2 separate regions of the Homo sapiens genome follow, and region 1 is linked to region 2. Evidence: fine-mapped expression QTL. Tissue or cell type: left ventricle. Region 2 holds a variant in brackets; the other region holds the start of a gene. All regions are shown on one strand. Distances are from middle to middle.

What was found. PIP is the estimated chance that this variant, and not a neighbour inherited with it, causes the effect.
Region 1: it holds the start of SHISA3, and the variant in region 2 is fine-mapped to the expression of SHISA3 in left ventricle (GTEx, PIP 0.96).

What each region holds. Positions count from the first base shown.
Region 1 is chr4:42,391,834-42,402,455 of GRCh38, reverse strand. SHISA3 (shisa family member 3) reads right to left here and starts at 4,968. Exons shown (of 2, transcript NM_001080505.3): 1 at 4,123-4,968; 2 at 1-1,444. The coding sequence starts at 4,399. The coding sequence ends at 1,005. RefSeq lists silencers at 3,455-3,504, 5,145-5,224 and an enhancer at 4,031-4,920.
Region 2 is chr4:42,319,655-42,330,276 of GRCh38, reverse strand. All of the region lies in intron 1 of LOC105374428 (a long non-coding RNA gene), which reads left to right. Among named protein-coding and RNA genes, the nearest start is that of SHISA3, 73 kb to the left of the region's middle. RefSeq lists an enhancer at 8,951-9,000. The variant A/C (reference allele first, on the strand shown) is at 4,687.

The DNA.
Region 1 (10,622 bases), 72 kb before region 2:
ATTCTAATCCAACAAGATATATGCCCAAATATATAGTCATCAAACATAAAATTCAGGGGCACTGGAGATATATATAATATTAGATGATTATACCAATAGCTAGACTTTGAACTCCAGTTATTATTAACATAAAAATTACAGTATGACTACTAAATAATTAGTACAGTCAATGTGGTAAATACATTAAATTACAAATATTTACATTTGAACATAGCTCATTTTACAAATAAATGTTTTAAGCCCCAACTGTCCAACTTTCACTGAAACACTAAATGTTGCTGAACAAAAAGTCTGCAATAAATACTCCCTCCAGTGAGTGGGGGAAATGATTTTACATACACTCTGTGTTACAATGAATGTCTGAGTATATATTTAAAACTTTAAACTCCTCATGTGATTATTGAAACCTTGTATTCTGGAAAAACTCATATTGTAAACAAAATTTAGTTATTTATTTAAAAAGTAAATGTTCTCATTATGCTAATATTATTCATGGTTAGGTTACTCCCGAAATCATAAATAGATTTTTCACTGCCCCCTTAAGTTTACCTAATAGTTAATTTTTTAAGTGAACCTTTGATAATTACAATTAGGTATTTTTCTTTGCTTATTTATGAATATATTCCTATCATAACTCAATGAACAACTTATATGAAAAAGAAACATGTAGCCCTTTTCTAAGCAATATAGCTGAATGTCCAGTAAAACGTTTTTAGCCAGTTTGCAACTTTAAAGTCAAACTGCTGCATATTTTGAATAAAAGTAGCATAGATTGAAATGTAATGATCACATGTTTGCAAAACCAGAAAACAGTTCTCTGGTTTAGCCTTTCTGTGATTGGAGACAGGAACTTTCAAATTAGAAGGTGCTGTGTTTTCCTAGCATGCTCCTCCATGACACTGATCAGTTACAAGGGAAATTTTCTCAGAATTGCATGTGGCAATGGGAGCAGGGCTCCACCTGTCTGCCATCTGACTGAGTTGTGGATTCATGGCCTGGGCGTGTCAACTGGAACTGAAGTCTGGACAGCTCTTCCCAGGCAGTGGGGGCTCCTGCTGGAGGGGGTAAGCGAAATACTGGGGTGACACCAGGAAACCAGATGGCTGAGCCAGGTGGATTGAGTGGCTGGTGGTGTATGGCGGGGGCGGTGAGGGCACCAGGCAGCCCGGCTCAGCCCTGGCAAAGGAGAACCTGCGGATGGAGCCGCCTGTGGAGCTGGAGCTCGTGGCTGTGCTGGACTGCCGGGAGGGTGCCCTGGGGCTGGTGGAGGTCAGGATCATGGGCAGGGTCTCTGTCTGATAGCTGCGGAGTGAGAAGCGGATTGGCTGCTGCGAGGGCTCCTTGGGTCTCAAACAGGTGCAACAATAAATAGCCACTACAGAGCCCAGGATGATGAACGCAATGAAGATGGAGCCGACGATGAGAAAGGGGACGTAGACAGGCTCTAAAAGGCAAAAACAGACATAAACAGATGCTCAGATGAGGATCTCCCAGATTCTGAACTCTGCTTGGGCAGCTGAGGGTTGAGAGGTGGGAGACTCAGTTACTATCACTGCTGTCAGCTCAGTTTTTCAGAGCTTGTTAATGGTAACCTCCAAAATGCAATGCAAACCGTGATGATGGAATATTCTCGCTACTCCTAGCAGGGAGGAAGCAAACGGATACCGTAGCCTCTGTTAGCAATTAACTATCATATTGCACATCTGGAAGTCAGAAAAAAAAAACGGAATCTGTTCTCCTGTTCAGGCACTAGAGGGAAAGGGTGAGTTTTAGGGGTTAAAATAATTCTAGGTTTAAATGCAGGTTTTAGTAGTTTGATCACGGTGAGCAGTAAGAGACTTGTCCCCTCTCTTAGGCTGGCAATCCATCTCCCATTCAATAATCTCCAGTCTAAGCAAAGGGAGCCAGGCCTATTAAATGAGATTCCCCTCTACACACAGACCCAGGATTTTATGAGACTCCAGAAAGAACAGTATAAAGAAATTCACAGAGGGCCCCAATCGACTGTGTCTCCTACCATACACCACAAATTGCCAGCTCTGGCTGCTTCTTTCCAGGAAAGATTTGGAATACCCACTCCAGCTGCCGTGCCTCTCAATTCCCATCCAAGCCTGGGAAGTCAGACTGAACTTTAGATAGATCACCAGGCAATTCTTGGTGTCCACGGCCCAGACTTTCTATAAAAGCATCCCTCAAACAGAGCAAACTCCAATTTCCTTCTCTCTCTACAAGGCAGACATAAAATTCCCAAGCCCGGAGGCATCCCCTTGGGCAGTTCTCCAGGTCTCTCCCCTGATAGAGCCGTGCTAAGACGCAGCCTCCAGCTTACAGGTAGAAGAAAGAAAGCCTGCATTGACTAAGTCCCTACTGTGTGCCTGGCTCTTTCTTATTCATTATCTGATTAAAGTCTCTTGGAGACCCTGTGAGATGGACATGATAAGCTCCATTTTCCAGATGTGGAAATACATCAGAGAAGTTTGCGCATTCCCACAGACAGAGCTAGTGAGGGACAGGTAACTATCAATTATTTGTGGGCTACTAGGCGTAAGCTCTTCTGTGTCCCTCCCATTCTCCCTTGTTTACTAGCACCAGCGTGCAAGGCAAGGCAAAGGTAAGTAACTACCATTTACTGAGCCCTGCGCTCCAGCATTCATACACTCTCACGTCACCAACAACTTAACTCCTTTGAGAGCAATATGCCCACTTTAGAACTGAGAAGAGGTATCCAGAGCAGTTAAGTAACTTGCCCAAGTTACACCGCCGGCAAGTGACAGAGCCAAGGTCCATCAGGGTTTGCCTGATCCCAGACTCAGTGAGTGTGGAGACTGCCTCTCCCTTCTGCTGTCCTCTGGCATCCGAGCCGAGTAGGGAGCGCAGAGGAAGCCCGTGCTGCAGACTGGGCAATTGCACTTACTCCCAGAGGGCAGCTGGGTCCCCCAGGGTGAGCGAGTGAAGCCGTGGGGAAGAGTCTATATTTTTCTAACAGGCCAGGAGGGCCTAGATTTCCCTACTTTCCGCTGAGCATCTTTTCTCCAGAACTACTTCCAGAATCCTCTAGATTGGAAATGTTGACCCCCAACATTCACCCTCTAGTGGAGCACTAATGGAGGGCAGACTCCCCTGTCCTCTGGGTTATCAGTTTGCGGGGAGGGGCCGTTGGGGAACCCTTAATGATCTCTCCAGCCTCTCTTCCCTTTCCCGGCGACCTTCTCTTGCGGGCTCCAGACCTCGGCTCTCTGGAGTCCTGGGGTGTCACCCGCTCTCAGCTCCGCCCGCTTCTCCGGTTTCCCTGGCCATAAAACCCTCGCCTCAAGCTCTAAAGCGTTTCCCTGATGTTCCGATTCAGGTGGAAAACTTTTTTTCAAGGTGTAAATTTTCTCTGCTGGGGTCGTGATTTATTCCGCTCTGAAGTCAGCGGAAATTTGACCCGTGTTTTCCGAAGTGAGAATAGGGGGCGGGGAAGCCCCTTCGACCCTTGTTTCTAAATCTCCACCTCGAAGACCTGGGCATTTCTGAAAGGCGTGACAATAGGGGGTGGGCCGGAGAGGGTAATTCGATGCAGAGAATTGAAAGGAAGTCTGCAGAACGGGGCCGTGGCTTAGAAACGCTATCATTAAGACAGAAAAAAAAAGTGACTGGGGTTTCTTAGCCCTGAAGGGCTGCAAATGAGCGCGCGACAAGAGTCGCGATTCCCTGCATTCGGCACTTCCCGAAGCTCCCGAAGTGACAAGGGCGAGCAATGGGACACCCTCGGCCCCTCCACCAAAACCCAAGTCTACCCTGGCTTTACCCGCACTACCCTTCTCCCGGGAGCTCCAGCTGTCTTCCCCCCGGCTACCAGGCACAAGCCCCGCGCTCCTCACTGTCCCTGGCAAACTTTCCCTGCGGGCCGACCCGCAGAGACCGCAAGTGGCGGGAAGCGGGACTGCAAATGAATAGAGGACCATGATCTGAAACGCGACCACCCACTCATCCCTTGATTCCCCCACCCGGCCGCGTCCCCCTGGCGCACAGACCCAGGAAGGCGCATAGACCTGCCTGGGTCTGTGCATCCTCCCGCGCACACATGCAGCCGCCGCCGTTAGGCGGGCGGGGATATGTCCCCGAGGGCCCCGCACTTACGCGCAGTGATGCCTGGGTGCTCCAGTTCGCGGCGGTCGTTGGTGCAGCCGCCCTGCTCCAGCCTGGCGTCGGCCGCGGCGCAACAGTAGCGGAGCGCGCAGGAGCCGCAGCAGATGGTAGCGTCCAGCGTGTCGAAGTCCTCTGGGCACTGGAAGCCCTCGTGGTAGTTGCCCTGCACGTCCACCCAGCCGTGGCAGTACTCTCCGGACTGCTGGGCGCCCGCCGGGCCCCAGCGCAGCCAGCCAAGGAGAAGGCAAAGCGCCAGCAGTGCCCTCATCGCCACTGGGCTCCCTGGGCGGCCGGGAGCAGGACGCAGCTGGAAAGCGAAGGGCTGAGCCCGGGCTCAGGGCGCACAGCGATTCCGCCTCCCCAGGGACACGTCGCAAGCTGCTGGCCCCGGCGGCCGAAGCCAGTCCTGCGTGGGATAGCAGGGGCCGGGGAGGCGACAGGGGCTGCACTACGAGTTCCGCAGGCCGGGAGTCAGCATGGTGCGCGGGGCGAGTTGGCGAGGGCCTGCGGGAGGCGCCGGCAGAGGCAGTTGCTGGGGCTGTCGCTGCCGCCCTTCGCCCGGCTCATAGCGCTCCCCGCGCGAGGGGCGCGCCAACCCCCCGGCCACCTCCCTCCCCACTCCTCAAGGGAGCCATAGCGCCCGGGGCTGCCAACTCCAGCGCCGCACAGAGTCCCAACCTGTGGCGATCGCCGGGTCCCGAGAGGAGCCGGAGGAAAAGAATTTGTTCCCCACGTGCGAGTACCCCAGACAGGCGGCCGCTCAGCCCCAGCCCCTATCTGTCACAGGAGCAGGAGTCAGCTCCGCCGCGGCCAAGTACAAACGGCCGCGGGGTTGCTGACAGCTCTGCCCGCAAGGCGTCTTTTAAAAAGGAAGAGGGAGGAGGAGACAATGAGGGTTAAGAAAGAGTCCGCCCTCCCGGATCGCGCCTCTGGAGCTAATCACAGCGGGTGCGGCGCGGGCCGAGGGTCCTCTGCGCTTTCTGGTTCGCGCTCCATCCTCCGCCTCCCCCCGGCCACCCCCGCCCATGCCGCTCCCCCAGGACTTGACTCTCAACCTGAAGATATCAGACCCTCCCCTCCCCCGCCGCACACCCCAACTCTCTCACAGCCCGGAAATCTCTGCAGAGTGACGTTGAGGGCTGCCGAATTCCCGCGTTTATCCACGCACGTGGGCGCGCGAGTGGAGACGCTGGATTTACTTTTCAATGGATATAATGCATGAATGCGGTGCAGTCATTGAAGTTTGTCGAATCATCTGTGCCCTGTTGCACAGACTCAGACTCGTTCCTGGGATACCGCTTCTAAAGGTTCAGGACCGAGAACATGGTTTTTAGGTGTCGCCAACATGTGCTGAGCTTTCCACCTACGTTTCCACTTTTTCTGGGAGGAACGGCACATTTTCACAAGCACACACACACACACACTCGCACTTTTTCCGCCGGCTGAAGGATTGCCGGTCACCTCTGCCAGCCAAGGCCAGCTCGCAAAACCTCAAAGAGCACGACTTCTCCGTTCACGCCCGCAAAGGAAATAAAGGAGCAAAATTAATGATAATTGAGCAGAACTGAACTTCTGTTCAGGGAAAGAAACACATTTATTTAAATGATGTGTCCCCTGTGGGCTATTTTCAGGGGCACTGCTCCGTTAGCGGCCTAAGTGCCTTATGAAACTGGTGTTATGTGAAACCTGGGCCAAACGCAAGCATTTATTTTGACTGCATCCTGAACTTCCAATCATCGTCTATTGGTATGTGTGAATATGTTCGGTGTATCTCGGCTTATTTGTCAAACAAGCTGCATACCCGTGTCCCTGAGTTAGATGTCGGCAAGTTGAGTGAAACAAAAGGAACAAAGTGTTCTCAGCTCCAGCGACACAAGGTGCGCGGTCAAACGCATTTATCACGTTCGCAGCTTCCTGATGAACCGAGTCGATTCCGGAGAAACTTTTTTAAAAATCTCCTATTAAAACGATTTCTTTTTTTTTTTTTTTTATCTAAGTTAAAGTATATTCCAATTAAATAATTACTTCTGATTTCTAATTTTAGGTATTGGGATTAGCATTTAGTTATGTGGCTGCTGAAAATACATGTCCATTTCACACGTTAAGTGGGACCGTGTAAATATTTAACTTTATTGCTCTCTTAGAGTTACATATTTCTTAGGACAATACGAAGCTATTAAGTAAAAACAAATTAAGTTGGAGCTTTCAATAACAAACAATGAAACAGTTTTTTAGTTAAATAGTTTAAGCATATGGGAAATTGTTTTGCAGAAATTTCTTAGATATTGGGTTTTTTATTTACAAAAAAAAGGTCTTGCCAGACTTAATCTTTTTTTTAACTCTAGTTGTTTTTTAGGAGTGTTGTTTCAATTGTATATATATCCTGAGCAATTACAGGAAAATGTCACTTAGAAACACAGCAAAAATGAGATATAGTGATTATAATCAGATGATAAAAATTATGACATGTTTACTGCTAATAACTTTCCCAGAACCACACCTTTTAATATTAGTTTTTGTTAAAATTTAGAGGAATTTCATTACGTCATAACTGCATAAAGTTCTGCTGCAGCAGCAACCTTTGCTGGTCCCCCAAGGGTCAAGTTTCTCTCATTATCCAGCTGTTCTTTGATAGCATTAATATTTTAAGGAGTGATTTGTTGGCACTTACCTCCCATTAATTACATTCTCCATGCCACAGTGGGATTCTTTTTCCTGGAGACACCAGCTATAATTAATTCCCTCATTCAAAGCTCCTGTCTACTTGACTTATTTAGAGGGCATTTTACCCAAATTTAGTTGGATGATGTTTACTAATGGAAAGTAACCAAACCTCCAAATTACTTGATCCTTCGTAGATCTGACTTGTGTGAACAGTAAACAACTGTGCACCATGCTTCAGATCTAGGTCCTCATCCTAAGCACCTTTAAAACCATTACAACAATCAGCTTCAGGAGTTTGCCTGGGCGAGGGGTTGGGGGGAGGCAGTGATATGTTTGGTTTCTTGTCATAGAAGATCTCTGCAAACTTTCCATTGTCAAATTTTAACTTCAAAACTGATGCCCTGAGAATCCTTTTCACCAACAGAAAGAGAATATTCACCTCTTTTTAGATATATAAACATCCAAAGTTTTTGTTATTCTGTTACTAGTTTAATAGTAAAGGAAGATGAAAAAGTTCTCATAGACACCCCTGAAAGACTCTAGGGGGAAGACATAGAGATAGAAAATAAAGTCCACAATATCTGGGGTATTATGAAGAGGTTTTGGAAATTCTTTATTGTTTCTTATCTCAGTAACACAAATTCCTTATTTTGGTCAAGAACATAATCATAAGAGATCATTTCCCCAGCCTACATACATTCTCTTGTGGCCCTGCCTCAAGGAAACTCTGTAGGAAGTGAGTTAATTGACATGATGTCTGGACTATGCTTTAATAAACACCAGCAAGAAAGAAAGAGAGGAGAGAAAGGCAGAAAGAAAGGGAAAGAAAAGAGGGAGGGTAGGAGGAAAAAGAAAAGATAGGTGAGCAATAGGGATGAGAAGATGGGCTAGGCAGAACTGAAACACAACTGGCAACATGTAGATAACTGTAGCTGGCTGAAGGGAACTTATAAAATCGAAATGCAACTCTTTTTTTCTTTTCTTTTCCTTTTGTTTGAGACGGAGTCTCACTCTGTTGCCCAGGCTGGAGTGCAATGGCATGATCTCGGCTCACTGCAACCCCCATTTCCTGGGTTCAAGCAATTCTCCTGCCTCAGCCTCCCAAGTAACTGGGACTACAGGCACCCACCACCATGCCCGGCTAATTTTTGTATTTTTAGTAGAGATGGGGTTTCACCATGTTGGCCAGGCTGGTCTCGAACTTCTGACCTCAGGTGATCCGCCCACCTCAGCTTCCCAAAGTGCTGGGATTACAGGCGTGAGCCACTGCGCCCAGCCGATGCATTTAATATTCTTAGGACATATTTGCTGACCATATTTTTAAACTTTGTTCTGGCCAGACATGGTGGCTCATGCCTATAATCCCAGCACTTTGGGAGGGCGAGGAGGGAGGATCCCTTGAGCTCAGGAGTTCAAGACCAGCCTGGGCAACATGGTGAGACCCTATCTCTACTAATAAAAATATAATTAGCTGGGCATGGCGGCACATGTCTGTAGGCCCAGCTACTGGGGTAGCTGAGGTGGCAGGATCACTTGAACCCAAGAGGTGGAAGCTGCAGTGTGCAGCGGTGGCACCACTGCGCTCCAGCTTGGGTGAACAGTGATGCCGTGTCTCAAAAAAAATAAAAAAGAAAAAAATTGTTCTGTTGACTTATCTTTTTTATATTCTTTGGAGCTGAGTGAATGATTTGAGAAAACCAAAAGCAGGGAGGTGAAGGGCCACATGGATCAGAAAGGTTTGGGAACTAAAATATACTGAGGAAAAAGGAGGAAGGCTAAAGGAATGCAGAAAACAAAAACAAAAACAAAAAAGGGCAGTTCACTGGACTATGGAAGAGTCTACTCCAGCTCATTTGCATTGGCCTCAGAAACAAAATGAAAAACAAGAGTTCCTCAACCCTCCCTCAAGTTTGCTTGTGCAATGACTTGTTTTCACTCTCCTTTAATTCAGAAAAAAACACTTTAATTTAATTTTCCTTTAATTACCTTGCCCATGACTTCATGGAATTCTCTTCCTTGGATCGCTTGTTGTAAATCTCTTACTCCAGGCCCCTCTCAATCTGAGTTACTCGAAAGGTGTTTTCTCTGAAATTTGCTGTGGCACATGTTTACCCTAGAGAATAGCAAGGTGCCTAGAAGGACACTCTCAGACCTGGGCAACCCAGCCCCAGGCCAGGCCCCTCTTCCTGCCCTGTGTTTCGGGCAGCCTCAGTCTCTTCATTTACCAAAAGAGGGGCTTAAGCTAGGGCCCTTAGAGAGTGTTTCTCAAAAGGCCATGAAATACCTGGGAATCTTGTTAAAATGCAGATCTGGCCGGGCACAGTGGCTCTCACGTCTGTAATCCCAGCACTTTGGGAGGCCGAAGCGGGCGGATCGCCTGAGGTCAAGAGTTTGAGACCAGCCTGGCCAACATGGTGAAACCTCATCTCTACTAAAAATACAAAAATTGACCGGGCGTGGTGGCGTGCACCTGTAACCCCAGCTACTCAGGAGGCTGAGGAAGGAGAATTGCTTGAACCCGGGAGGCAGAAGTTGCAATGAGCTGAGATCACGCCACTGCACTCCAGCTTGGGTGACAGAGCAAGAGTCCATCTCAAAAAAAAAAAAAAAGCAGACCTGACTCTCACAAAGTCTGCAGTGGGGCCTGTGATTCTGCATTTCTAATGAGTTTCCAGGTGATGCCAAGTGGCTGCATTGAGGACCATACTCTGAGGCCCTCTGGCCTTCCTCTGCCCTGTCTGCAGCCACAGGGGAAAGAGTGAATAGAGCCAGAGGGCAGTGCCCACCCAAAGCCCATTCCCTCCCTTTTTGTACCACTCTCTGGGTCCTGGATCCCAGCACTCCCTACTCAAAGAGGCCAAAAGTTGCTTCTAGGCTGCACAGAAGCCTCTTCCTGATGTTAAGAGGTTCTGGCGGGAGGTGTTTCAAAATTTGTACACATAGGCTGGGATGCCCAGACACATACATGGGAGGCCCCTTGCAGTGCAAGATGAAGTCAGGTATGGGAAGAAAGAGGAAGTCAGAAGAACAGACTCAGGCTGATGGCTTTCATGACTTTTCCTGCCCTGGCTTGAAAATGTGAGAACGGGCCTGTTGTCCAGTATGTTATAGAGACTCTGTAAGTGTTCATACAGGGTATAAGGATTGATTGAATAAACAACAAAAGGAACGTTAGCAATTCCGTGGTATTAAACCACACACACTGCAATTTTGTGTTAGGGCATCTGTCTTCCCCATTAGTCTGACCTCCTTTTACTTTATTGGATCCTAGGACCTAGCACATAGTGGGTGCTTAGTGAATGGTGAATAAATAACTGGCTAAAACAATGAGTGGCTACTCGAGAACTTGTTGCAACTGAGTGACATCCGTTTCACGACTATACAGAACTGCAGCAGAGGAGAGCAGGATGAATTCCCAGGCAGGGGGTATTACAGAGTCATCTCCTGGTGATTTAATCATCACTGTAGTGCATGAAGAACTCTCCAGTGTGTCAGCACTGCCAGAATAGGGCAGTCACCAGCCCATCCCCCATGGAGAGAGTGCTGACACTTGTCCTAGAGAACAGAGATATGATGCAAAGACAATCGGCCAGGACAGGAGAGTGTGCGTCTTACTAATCACATGACCTTGAGCAAGGTCATTTCTGTGTACTGCACTTCAGCTTTTGTGTCTCTAAAATGAGGGATGTGGGAAGGAGTAATCCTTACCCTGAAAGATTATTGTAAGGATTCAAAATAAAACACATAGCAAGGATGCAAAATAAAACATGGAGTGTGGCACAGAGTTGGCACTTCATAACCAGTAGGTATTATTATTACCCACCACC
Region 2 (10,622 bases):
AAATACTTAGGGAAAGAAACTGCACAAAAGATTTACATCTTTTTTACTGCTACAACTTCTGTGTTAGGGAAAGCGGGAAAAGTTCCAAGGAAATCTGCCTCCCATCCTTTTGCGGAAATAAATTGTGCTTAGGCCCCAAATGGAGTAGCATTTCTGCATCGTTCTTCTCTCAGAACAATGTTTCTTAACCTTTGTGTGGGAGGGAGGGTCGTGGAGCCTTGTGACTGTGTGGACCCCCTAACTGAGGAAATGTAACACCATTTCAGGGGTGTCATACACCCCATTTAAAACTCATTCAGGGACCCACTAGAGATCCTTGTATTCTTTGAATAAAAGTGGCCCACCATTGAGTCAAAACTGGTGGGTGTTGTCAAGAGGTGATTTTACAGAGAGAAAGATGGGAGAGAAGGGAAGAGAGACTTTCCTGGAAGAAAACTCTGTCCTCCTCAAAACCTAGCCTTGCCAAGTCACATTACAAAGGTTAAGTACATGTCAATATGTAGGAATGACGTTAACAAAGGGGAAACTGGAAAAGCTCCCCCACTGTTTGGCTACTAGAGTGATTCTCCAATGGGGTCCAGTCACTGTCATTCCCTTCCCTCCTTGTGTAACTATAAGTGATTTAACAAGGTTTATAGTTAAAAATAATAGCAATAAAGGGTCCAGTGAACACTGGGATAGATGTTTATCTGTTGCAGACCTTGGGAGATGAATATCATGACTGCTAGCTGACTCATAAAGCTATAGCCTATAAGGTTAGAGAAAGCTAGCTTTATTTTAACACTCTCTACATTCATTAGCACATCAAATGTTGACAGTCCTAAGAGACGTGCGTCAAAATTCCAATTTTATTAGTGAAAAAGCTGAATTGAGAAAGCTTAGGTGATTCTCCAAGGTCACCCATAAGGGATAGAGGTAAGAATTGAACCCAGAGCTGACTGACTCCTAAGTCCCTGAACTTTCAGCTGCACCACTCAGCCAGGGAGCTCATCTTCAGCTCTCAAGGGAATGTGCCCATCCCAGAGCACACCTCCTGATTCCTAACCTCCATATGGTGCATCCTCTGGGAATGTCCCTTCTCTTAGTCAATGGTTTGACCCATCCAGATTAGCTGTATATTATCTCCTTCAGCCTCTATAAACACCCTATAAGGGCTGGGTGTGGTGGCTCACACCTGTAATTCCAGCACTTAGGGAGGCCGAGGCGGGTGGATCACCTGAGGTCAAGAGTTCAAGAAGAGCCTGGCCAGCATGGTGAAACCCCATCTCTACCAAAAATACAAAAAAAATTAGCTGGGCATGGTGGTGGCTGCCTGTAATCCCAGCTACTCAGGAGGCTGAGGCAGGAGATTCTCTTGAACCCAGGAGGCAGAGGTTGCAGTGAGCTGAGATCACGCCATTGCACTCCAGTCTTGGCAACAAGAGCAAAACTAAACTCCGTCTCAATAAAAAAATAAAAAATAAACACCCTGTGAGAAGGTATTATCCACTCCATTCTGCAGACAAGGAAACCAGGCTTGGAGAGATAAATTACTTACCCAAGGTCACACAGCTGAGTCTCTGACTCCAAAACTTGTGTTTTTTCCATCATACGAGTTGCCTTTTGCAAGAAATGGAGGAATTCCTTCAAGCAGCCCATCTCTTTAATGAGCATTAAGCATGTATTTGCCATCTGGGGGTTCGTGTTTTGGGTTTGTGCAAATCCCCACACCAGGCATCCCTGCAATCCCTGCAGATAAATCCACCAGCTCCAAAGTGCTTAGGTATTTGCTCCCCCAAAGTGTGACCAAATTAGACTGTGCCTGGCACCCTTTTACTCAGCAGGAGGACTTAGAGTGTGCTGAGCCTCCAAAAAGCAAGCCTTCAGTGCTCAAGCTGTGGCTGCTTTTGTAATGCTCTGTGCATCTGTCAGATGACACCAAAAGTTGCAGCTCTGAAAGCCAGAGCCACAGAAGGACTTCTGTTGGACTTTCTATGTCTTCACTCCATATTCTATCCAGTGGTAAACATGGAGGGACAGCAGAGTGTGATGATTAGAAAAGACTTAGAATGAGATTAGAACACTAGATTGCCTGGTAGCACCTCTTCCAGGCTGCGTTACCTGGGCCAAGTTACTCAACCTCTCTGTGCCTCAGCTTCCTTATCTATACAATGGGATAGATAGCACAGGAGGTTGATACAATAGGAGTTAAAATGTATAAAACACTTAGAAAAGGGTCTGTCTCATAGCTAGTGCTGGTTGGTTAAATAAAATTGCGTAAAGCTGGCAACTAGCTGCTCTGGCAGTGTGGATATTTTTTACTCTCTGAGTGTGTCAATCATCTGTGGTCAAGAACTCTCTTCAGTCCTACAGTCCCAAAAGGCAGAAACTTAATCTAGAACTTGGCACCCGCTGAGGCAGAGGCTGTATCCGGAGGTTCTCAGGCCTCCTGAAATGCAGCCCAGGCGAAGCCTACCTTTTCTATGGGCCAAGCAGTTAACACACATCTCAGCCCTGGTGGTGTGTTCTAAAAGGGTTTCATTCCAAACATCCCCTCATTCTAAGCCCCACAATGGCCATCCTATTTCAAGGGAAAACTGAGGAGACTGAAACCCTGATAGCCTTTGAGCCTGAGGTTCCCTGGGCTGCCTGAGAGCCATGATCTGTAAGGGCCTCTGGGAAGGCTGCGGGCATGGCCTTTCACCGAAGCCCGTCTCCTCCTCCATGCATCTGCTTGCTGTCCTGCTGACAGGCCTTATCCCAGGCAGGAGGAGTCCTCCGATGAGCATTTCCACACTTGCAGGGAAAGGTCACTGCCTTAGATTAACAACTTCTCATTACCCTCCCACCTCACCAGGCTCAAAAACTGCTCTGCTGTGGAGTTTAGAGTCTGTGGGTCCTGAGCTGGTTCCAACAGCACTGAAACCCAGGCAGGAAAAGGGAGCCAGCTATTCTTGAGAATAGGCATAGGGCTCGAGGCAAAGGCTTGTTTTAAGATGAGTTTGACACCAGCCACAAGTGCCCAGATGGAATCTTCTCAGGCATGGCCCCAGATTTGTTTTGTTTTTATTTATTTTTTGAGACGGAGTCTCATTCTGTCACCCAGGCTGGAGTGCGGTGGCATGATCTCGGCTCACTGCAATCTCCGCCTCCCGGGTTCAAGTGATTCTCCTGCCTCAGTCTCCCAAGTAACTGGGATTACAGGTGCACGCCACCACGCCAAGCTGATTTTTGTATTTTTAGTAGAGACGGAGCACCATGTTGGCCAGGCTGGTCTCGAACTCCTGACTTCAGGTGATCCGCCTGCCTCTGCCTCCCAAAGTGCTGGGATTACAGGCATGAGCCACCACACCAGGCCCAAGATTTGCGTATGACCTCTGAGCAGCCTATGCACAGAAGAAAAAACAGGGCAAGTTACTACTCCCATAATGCCGAGGTCTCCCAGAGCCCTTCTCCAGATTCTTTCTTTCTTCTTTCTTTGTTTCTTTCTTTCTTTCTCTTTTTCTTTCTTTCTTCCTTCCTTTCTTCTTTCCTTTCTTTCTTTCCCTTTCTTTCCCTTTCCCTTTCTTCCTTCCTTCATTCATCCTTCCTTCCATCCCTCCTTCCTTCCCTTGTTCCTCCTTCCTTCCTTCTTCCTTCCTCCCTTCCTTCTTTCCTTCAACATTCCCTCCTTCCTCCTTCCTTCCTCTGTCCTTCCTTCCTTCCATTCTTTCTTCATCCTTCTTTCCTTCTTTCCGTCCTTCCTTCATTTTTCCTCCTTGCTTTGTCCTTCCTTTATCCTTCCTTCGTTTCTTTGTCCTAACTTTCCTTCCTTCCTTCCGTCCCTCCCTCCCTCCCTCCCTCCTCCCTTTCTTGTATTTCTCTCTCCTTTTAGTCCCAAGCACTGCAACATATTTGTAAAAATAAAATTCTGGAAAAGTAGAGCAGAGAAGCGAGTTCTGAAGGGGAGAAATATTGCCATTGTCATGTGCAGCAACAGCCAGACCATGAGCACAGACAGAAGAAAGGTGTGAACAAGGTCAGCCAACATCAGACCGTCCCATGCACTTCACTGAGGTTGTCACACAGCCTGCCAACAAGATTGCGCAGGGAGGTTTTACTACAGTGCTACCTTCTCTCCACTTGATTCTTGGCTCTGATTACAAAACACATGCAGTGGTGGGCTGGGCGCCCATGGGACGGCCACTTAGAACTCCCTCACTCATCCCTTCAAAGAAAGAGTTTGAGAAAAATAAAGTAGCATGAAATCCCCCATAGGTATTTCATCAGCTCTTCCTTCTCGGCAATTTCCCTTTGGTTCCATTTTTTTTCCTTTATTACTCTTTTTTAGTTTATGTTGTCTTCCAAATGCTAAGCATTGCTTTGCTCCTATGAAGTCCAAACACAAAGGTAAGCTTTTATTTTCCTAAGAAGACATACTGATGAAAAGCTTGAAGGTTTGAATTAAACGTCCAGACAAGATTCCAAACCATTCCTTTTTTTTTTTTAGTATACTTGAATACTGTTTATTGCTTTAACTTATTTTTTTAATTATACTTTAAGTTCTAGGGTACATGTGCACAACGTGCAGGTTTGTTACATAGGTATACATGTGCCATGTTTGTTTCCTGCACCCATTAACTCGTCATTTACATTAGGTATTTCTCCTAATGCTATCCCTCCCCCTGCCCCCGAGCCCATGACAGGCCCCTGTGTGTGATGCTCCCC[A/C]CCATGTCCAAGTGTTCTCACTGTTCAATTCCCATCTATGAGTGAGAACATGCGGTGTTTCGTTTTCTGTCCTTGTGATAGTTTGCTCAGAATGATGGTTTCCAGCTTCATCCATGTCCCTGCAAAGGGACATGAACTCATCCTTTTTTATGGTTGCATAGTATTCCATGGTGTATGTGTGCTACATTTTCTTAATCCAGTCTATCATTGTTGGACATTTGGGTTGGTTCCAAGTTTTTGCTGTTGTGAATAGTGCTGCAGTAAACATACGTGTGCATGTGTCTTTAGAGTAGCATGATTTATAATCCTATGGGTATATACCCAGTAATGGGATGGCTGGGTCAAATGGTATTTCTAGTTCTAGATCCTTGAGGAATCGCCACACTATCTTCCACAATGGTTGAACTAGTTTACACTCCCACCAACAGTGTAAAAGCATTCCTATTTCTCCACATCCTCTCCAGCACCTGTTGTTTCCTGACTTTTTAATGATCGCCATTCTAACTGGTGTGAGATGGTATCTCATTGTGGTTTTGATTTGCATTTCTCTAATGACCAGTAGTGAGCATTTTTTCACGTGTCTCTTGGCTGCATAAATGTCTTCTTTTGAGAAGTGTCTGCTCATATCCTTTGCCCACTTTTTGATGGGGTTGTTTTTTTCTTGTAAATTTGTTTAAGTTATTTGTAGATTCTGGATATTAGCCCTTTGTCAGATGGATAGATGGCAAAAATTTTCTCCCATTCTGTAGGTTGCCTGTTCACTCTGATGGTAGTTTCTTTTGCTGTGCAGAAGCTCTTTAGTTTTATTAGATCCCATTTGTCAATTTTGGCTGTTGTTGCTATTGCTTTTGGTGTTTTAGACATGAAGTCCTTGCCCATGCCTATGTCCTGAATGGTATTGCCTAGGTTTTCTTCTAGGGTTTTTATGGTTTTAGGTCTAACATTTAAGTCTTTAATCCATCCTGACTTAATTTTTGTATCAGGTGTAAGGAAGGGATCCAGTTTCAGCTTTCTACATATGGCCAGCCAGTTTCCCCAGCACCATTTATTAAATAGGGAATCCTTTCCCCATTTCTTGTTTTTGTCAGCCAAATCATCCCTTAATTCTTGGTCTCTACAGATCTAACTTGGCAAACTATCCATCAGGAATGCATTCATTCACTTATGCAGTCAGTCACTTGTTCAGCAGGTATTTATTGAATATCTACTGTGCCTCAGGCACCGTCTAGGTTCTGGAGGCACAATTGTCTGCTTTTCTGAGACAATGACAGAAATGTTCTGGGAGTGTACGTTTAAAAATGTATGATAACACGTAGAAGAGACTCTATTTTTATGTTGGGGAGGATTCCAGATTAAAGTATTGTTCCTAATTCTTTACACTTGCCTGCATTTATACCTTTGTCATGGCTTCATCATGGCTTTGGGCTTGATTATGTGACATGCTATGGCCAGTGACACGTGGGCAGAAGCGAGAGGAGGCCAGTTCTGAGCCTAGGACTTCAGAAGCATCACATATTTCCACTTGTCTTCTTGCACCTTTACCATGGCAATGAGAACATGCCCTGGCTTGCCCACTGCTCTAAGGAGTGGAGCCACCCGGGCCTGCAGTGGCACTGCAGCCACCATGTCCTGGAGCAGAGCCACCCAGCCTTTCAGCAGAACCCCAGTCAACCCATGGACCTGTGAGCAGTCATAAGTAATTATTGTTTTAAGCCACAAGTTTTGGAGTGGTTTATTATTCAGCAATATCAAACGTTTACAGAAATTGGTACCACAGCAAAATCCTAAAATATGTGGTATTGGTTTTGGGCCTAGGAGGCAGATAGAGGCTGAAGAAAGGAAACAGTTATAGGAGGCAGGAAAATTGTGACCTATGTTATGTAGTGACAAAATATCTGGTAAAATTGTCACCTGAGCTAACCTGAAAGATAGAAAATGTGCCTAATGAACCTATGAACTTGAGCAAGAAGATTGCCAGGCAGAAGGTTACAATTGGAAGACTTCATCACATATGATATAGTATAGCTTAGAGGAGAACTGGTTAGCTTGCAAGCAGAATTTAGAGGGAATACACAGAGTCCAAACTAGCTGGGTTGGAAAATAGAACTGTTTTTTATCCCCAGCCCTTCGAGCCAGTAAAAGACTCCCAAATAAAATACAGTGCAGAGACAAAGACCAAGTCAAGGTGTGGCCATTAAGATACAGCTTGGAAACAACCAACCCAGGGCACTGCCAGTTAAGCCAAGTCCCCAGGTTAAAGACCAGACTCCAGGAGAAATAAGATAGTACCCTGTCATTTCTCAAACTTTTGCGTGCTTCAGAATCATCCAGAGGCTTGTTAACACAGATACCCAAGCACCACCTCCAGAGATTCCGATTCCACAGTTACAGGAAAAGGCCCAAGAGCTTGTACTTTGAACTGGCTCCCAGGTGATGCTGATGTTACGTCTTTGAGTAGCCCTGGTCTAGGAAAGCCTTCCAGCTGTGCAACCAGGTACCTAGAAAACTTAAAGGCATAGTCCCACGACAACCTGTTATACCCCAATTAATAGCAACTATGGAGTGACAGACACACAGAGAGGTATATCCCAAATGAATTTTGACACATGGGTAGACTAGAATAAAATACGTTAAAACTCATGATGGCATCAGGAAAAATAGCTAATGCCTACCCGGCTTAACACCTAGGTGACTATGGCTCACATTTACCTATGTAACAAATCTGCACATCCTGCACATGTACCCCAGAACTTAAAATAAAATAAAGACAAAAAAAACTCATAAAGGATTTTCCCCAAATTTTATTCCTTCTGTTTTCTTGTTTGTGCTGAGAAATTGTGTCCTTATATGTAAGTAAATGAAAATGGAAGGAATTTGGTCTCGTCTACATCACTCAGTTCTTTGAACCTCTTCTTAGGAAAATGCTAAAATCACAGAATAAGCATTTATCATCTTTAATTTTAAAAGTTCCATCAATTTAAAACTCAAATAAATCCTATTACAATTTTTTAAAATACGAACAATTAGAAACCATCAGACTTGCATAAAGGTTGAACTCAGACATCATAATCATTCACTTTCTCAATGTACAAGTCTTTGAAAAAGACTTTCTCAAAAGTTATGCATTAACCACTAAATATACAAATTATATTTTCACTGAAAAACACCCTGTTTAATCTGCCATCCTCACAAAGATTTGGGGAAATTAAAATATCAATTTCAATACACTACTACCAAGCTAATATTTGTTATACATTAGTTTATATATATTTTGGTCCAAATCTTGAATTACTTATCCGTAAAACTATCTATAAGGAAATATGTATGGGATACATTCCTATTCAATCTTTTTGACCACATCTTCAAAATTGTTTTTTTAGATAGTCATTAAGAAAAATTTGTTCCTTTAGCTCACCTTTCTAGGGCAACAAAAAAAAATGTGTTTTCTTGCCACTTTTAAAATTCCTTGTTTTTAATTTGTAAAACTCAGAAAGTTTTTTCGAAAGTATTATTGACAAAAATACTTCTGGCCTTGAATATAAAGGACTGTGGCTCTTTGAAATGTAAAAAGACCTCTGAGCCCCCAGCTTTTTCCAGGCTGAAAGCATTCTGAGAAACTTGCTCAGATGAAAAAAAGGGCATTTTTCTAAAGCCCGTTTCAGAAGTGGTGGTCAAGGCAGATGATATAAATGGAAGAACAACCATCCTTCCATTTCTGTTTATACTGGGGTAAAGTATTGTCCCCAATTCTGTATCCCTACTGTGTCATGGCCTCATCATGAGTATCCCTTGGCTTTAGTTTTGGCCATGTGACTTGCTGTGACCAGTGGCATGTGAAAAGAAATAGGAGAATGTGAGATGGAAGTTTTTATTTTGGTTATTTCCTTCCTGTTCTGCCTCTGAGTGTTGGGTATTTAAGGTGCAAACGACTTGCCATTTTAGTCTACAGGTCTCCATGACATCCTGCAGATCCAATCAAGCCCTTTGGGACCCTGGGTTGGGGGTAAGGACATTTGCATGTTAGAGGAAAGTTATGATCAAAGTAGTGCACTGTGGTGGATTGACTTGTTGGTCTTAATTCTTCTCTCGTCCCCATCATGCATCCACATCCTTGCTATGGCCTCATACTGCCCCTTGAATTTGGAGTTGGCCCTGTGACTTACTGTAACTAATTGCAGGTATGTCTCAGTGAGTCCAGACTTTAAGAAATGTCATGTTTCCACTCACCCTGTTGTGCCTCTGCCTTTGTCGTGAGAACATATGATGGCAGATACGCTTAAAGAAGGTTGGAGGCCTATGGAACAGAGTCACCTAGCAGACCCAGCAGACCCAGGAGACCCACAAGCCCAAAGCTGGGCCAACCAGCGCAACCCTGCCTAATCAGCTGAACTCCACGTGACCCACAGATATATGATTGCTATTTTCAGCTACCAAGTTTTGAAGTCATCTATTACACAGCAAAGGCTATCTGACACAATGGGGGAGAGAGCTTTCCTGCAGAAAGCATCAACTAAGCCGTTAAAACTGGAGCAGAAGTGGCACCTAAGCAAATGAAAAGATGTTCAATGGCATATGTCATTAGGGAACTGAAACATTAAAACAACAAGGAGACACCACTGCACACTGTTATAAATAAAGTTTCGGTGCTGCATTAGAAATAGCACTCAAAGGCCCTGTGCAGTGGCTCACGCCTGTAACCCCAGCACTTTGGGAGGCCAAGGCGGGTGGATCAAGACGTCAGGAGATCGAGACCATCCTGGCTAACACAGTGAAACCCTGTCTCTACTAAAAATACAAAAAATTAGCCAGGCGTGGTGGCGGGCACCTGTAGTCCCAGCTACTCAGAAGGCTGAGGCAGGAGAATGGCGTGAATCCTGGAGGCGGAGCTTGCAGTGAGCCGAGATCGTGCCACTGCACTCCAGCCTGGGCGACAGAGCGAGACTCCATCTCAAAAAAAAAAAAATGCAAAAGAAAAGAAAAGCAAAAAAAAGAAATAGCACTCAAATATAAAATTTTCTTTTTAATTCTCAGCAAGGCAATGTACTTCTATAGAAGGGTGTGCCCTTTCAGATACAGCAAGGGCAAGCATGCACTTGGACAAGGTAGGGGAAGGGGTTCTTATCCCTGACTCACATGGCCCCTGCTGCTGTGTCATTCCCCTATTGGCTAGGGTTAGACCGCACAGACAAACTAATTCCAATTGGCTGATTTAAAGAGAGTGATGGGGTGAGTGGTTTGGCAGGAAAACTGGTTATGGCAGAGCAGGAAATTGGAATGAGTCAGGGTGGAGAATGAGCAGGTAATCGGAATGAGTCAGGGTGGAGTAGGTAATCGAAAAATGTTGCTTTACGAGGAAGTTAAGTTTAAAAGTAGAAGGCAAAGAATTGAACATACTGACAAATTTCTTGGAAGAGAAATTTAGAACTCATATCTAACAATTTGTCTTCTTGCATTTCCTTATAGCGCTTTCTCTTCAAACTTCTTTAACATGTCTTGGCTTAGTTGTTCTGCTTGATTTTCCAAAAGAAGAAGCTTCTCTGGATAAGGTGGAGGATAGTTAAGGGAGGTTTTAGTAAGTGCCGTTTTTATGAGCCTTTGCACCAACCCACAGATGCATGGTGTGACACAGCACCTGACAAGAATAAGTACACCCATTATGGCTGCGAGGGAAGTAAGAATCGAGGCTATTATTCTTTTCCATCTACCAAACCACTTTTCTAGCCATCCTGTAAAGGGGTCATTTTCCCCTGAGTTGTTGGCTAACTCATTGGACAGAGCAGTCAGACCTTGCAATGCCTTTGTTATACTTCCATCAGGGGCAGTGTTGTTTGGGATGAAGATACAACGTTGAGTTTTAATCACGATGCAAACTCCTCCTCTTTCTGCTAATATCATGTCTAAGGCTATCCTATTTTCCCAAGCCATCTGGCTAGTAG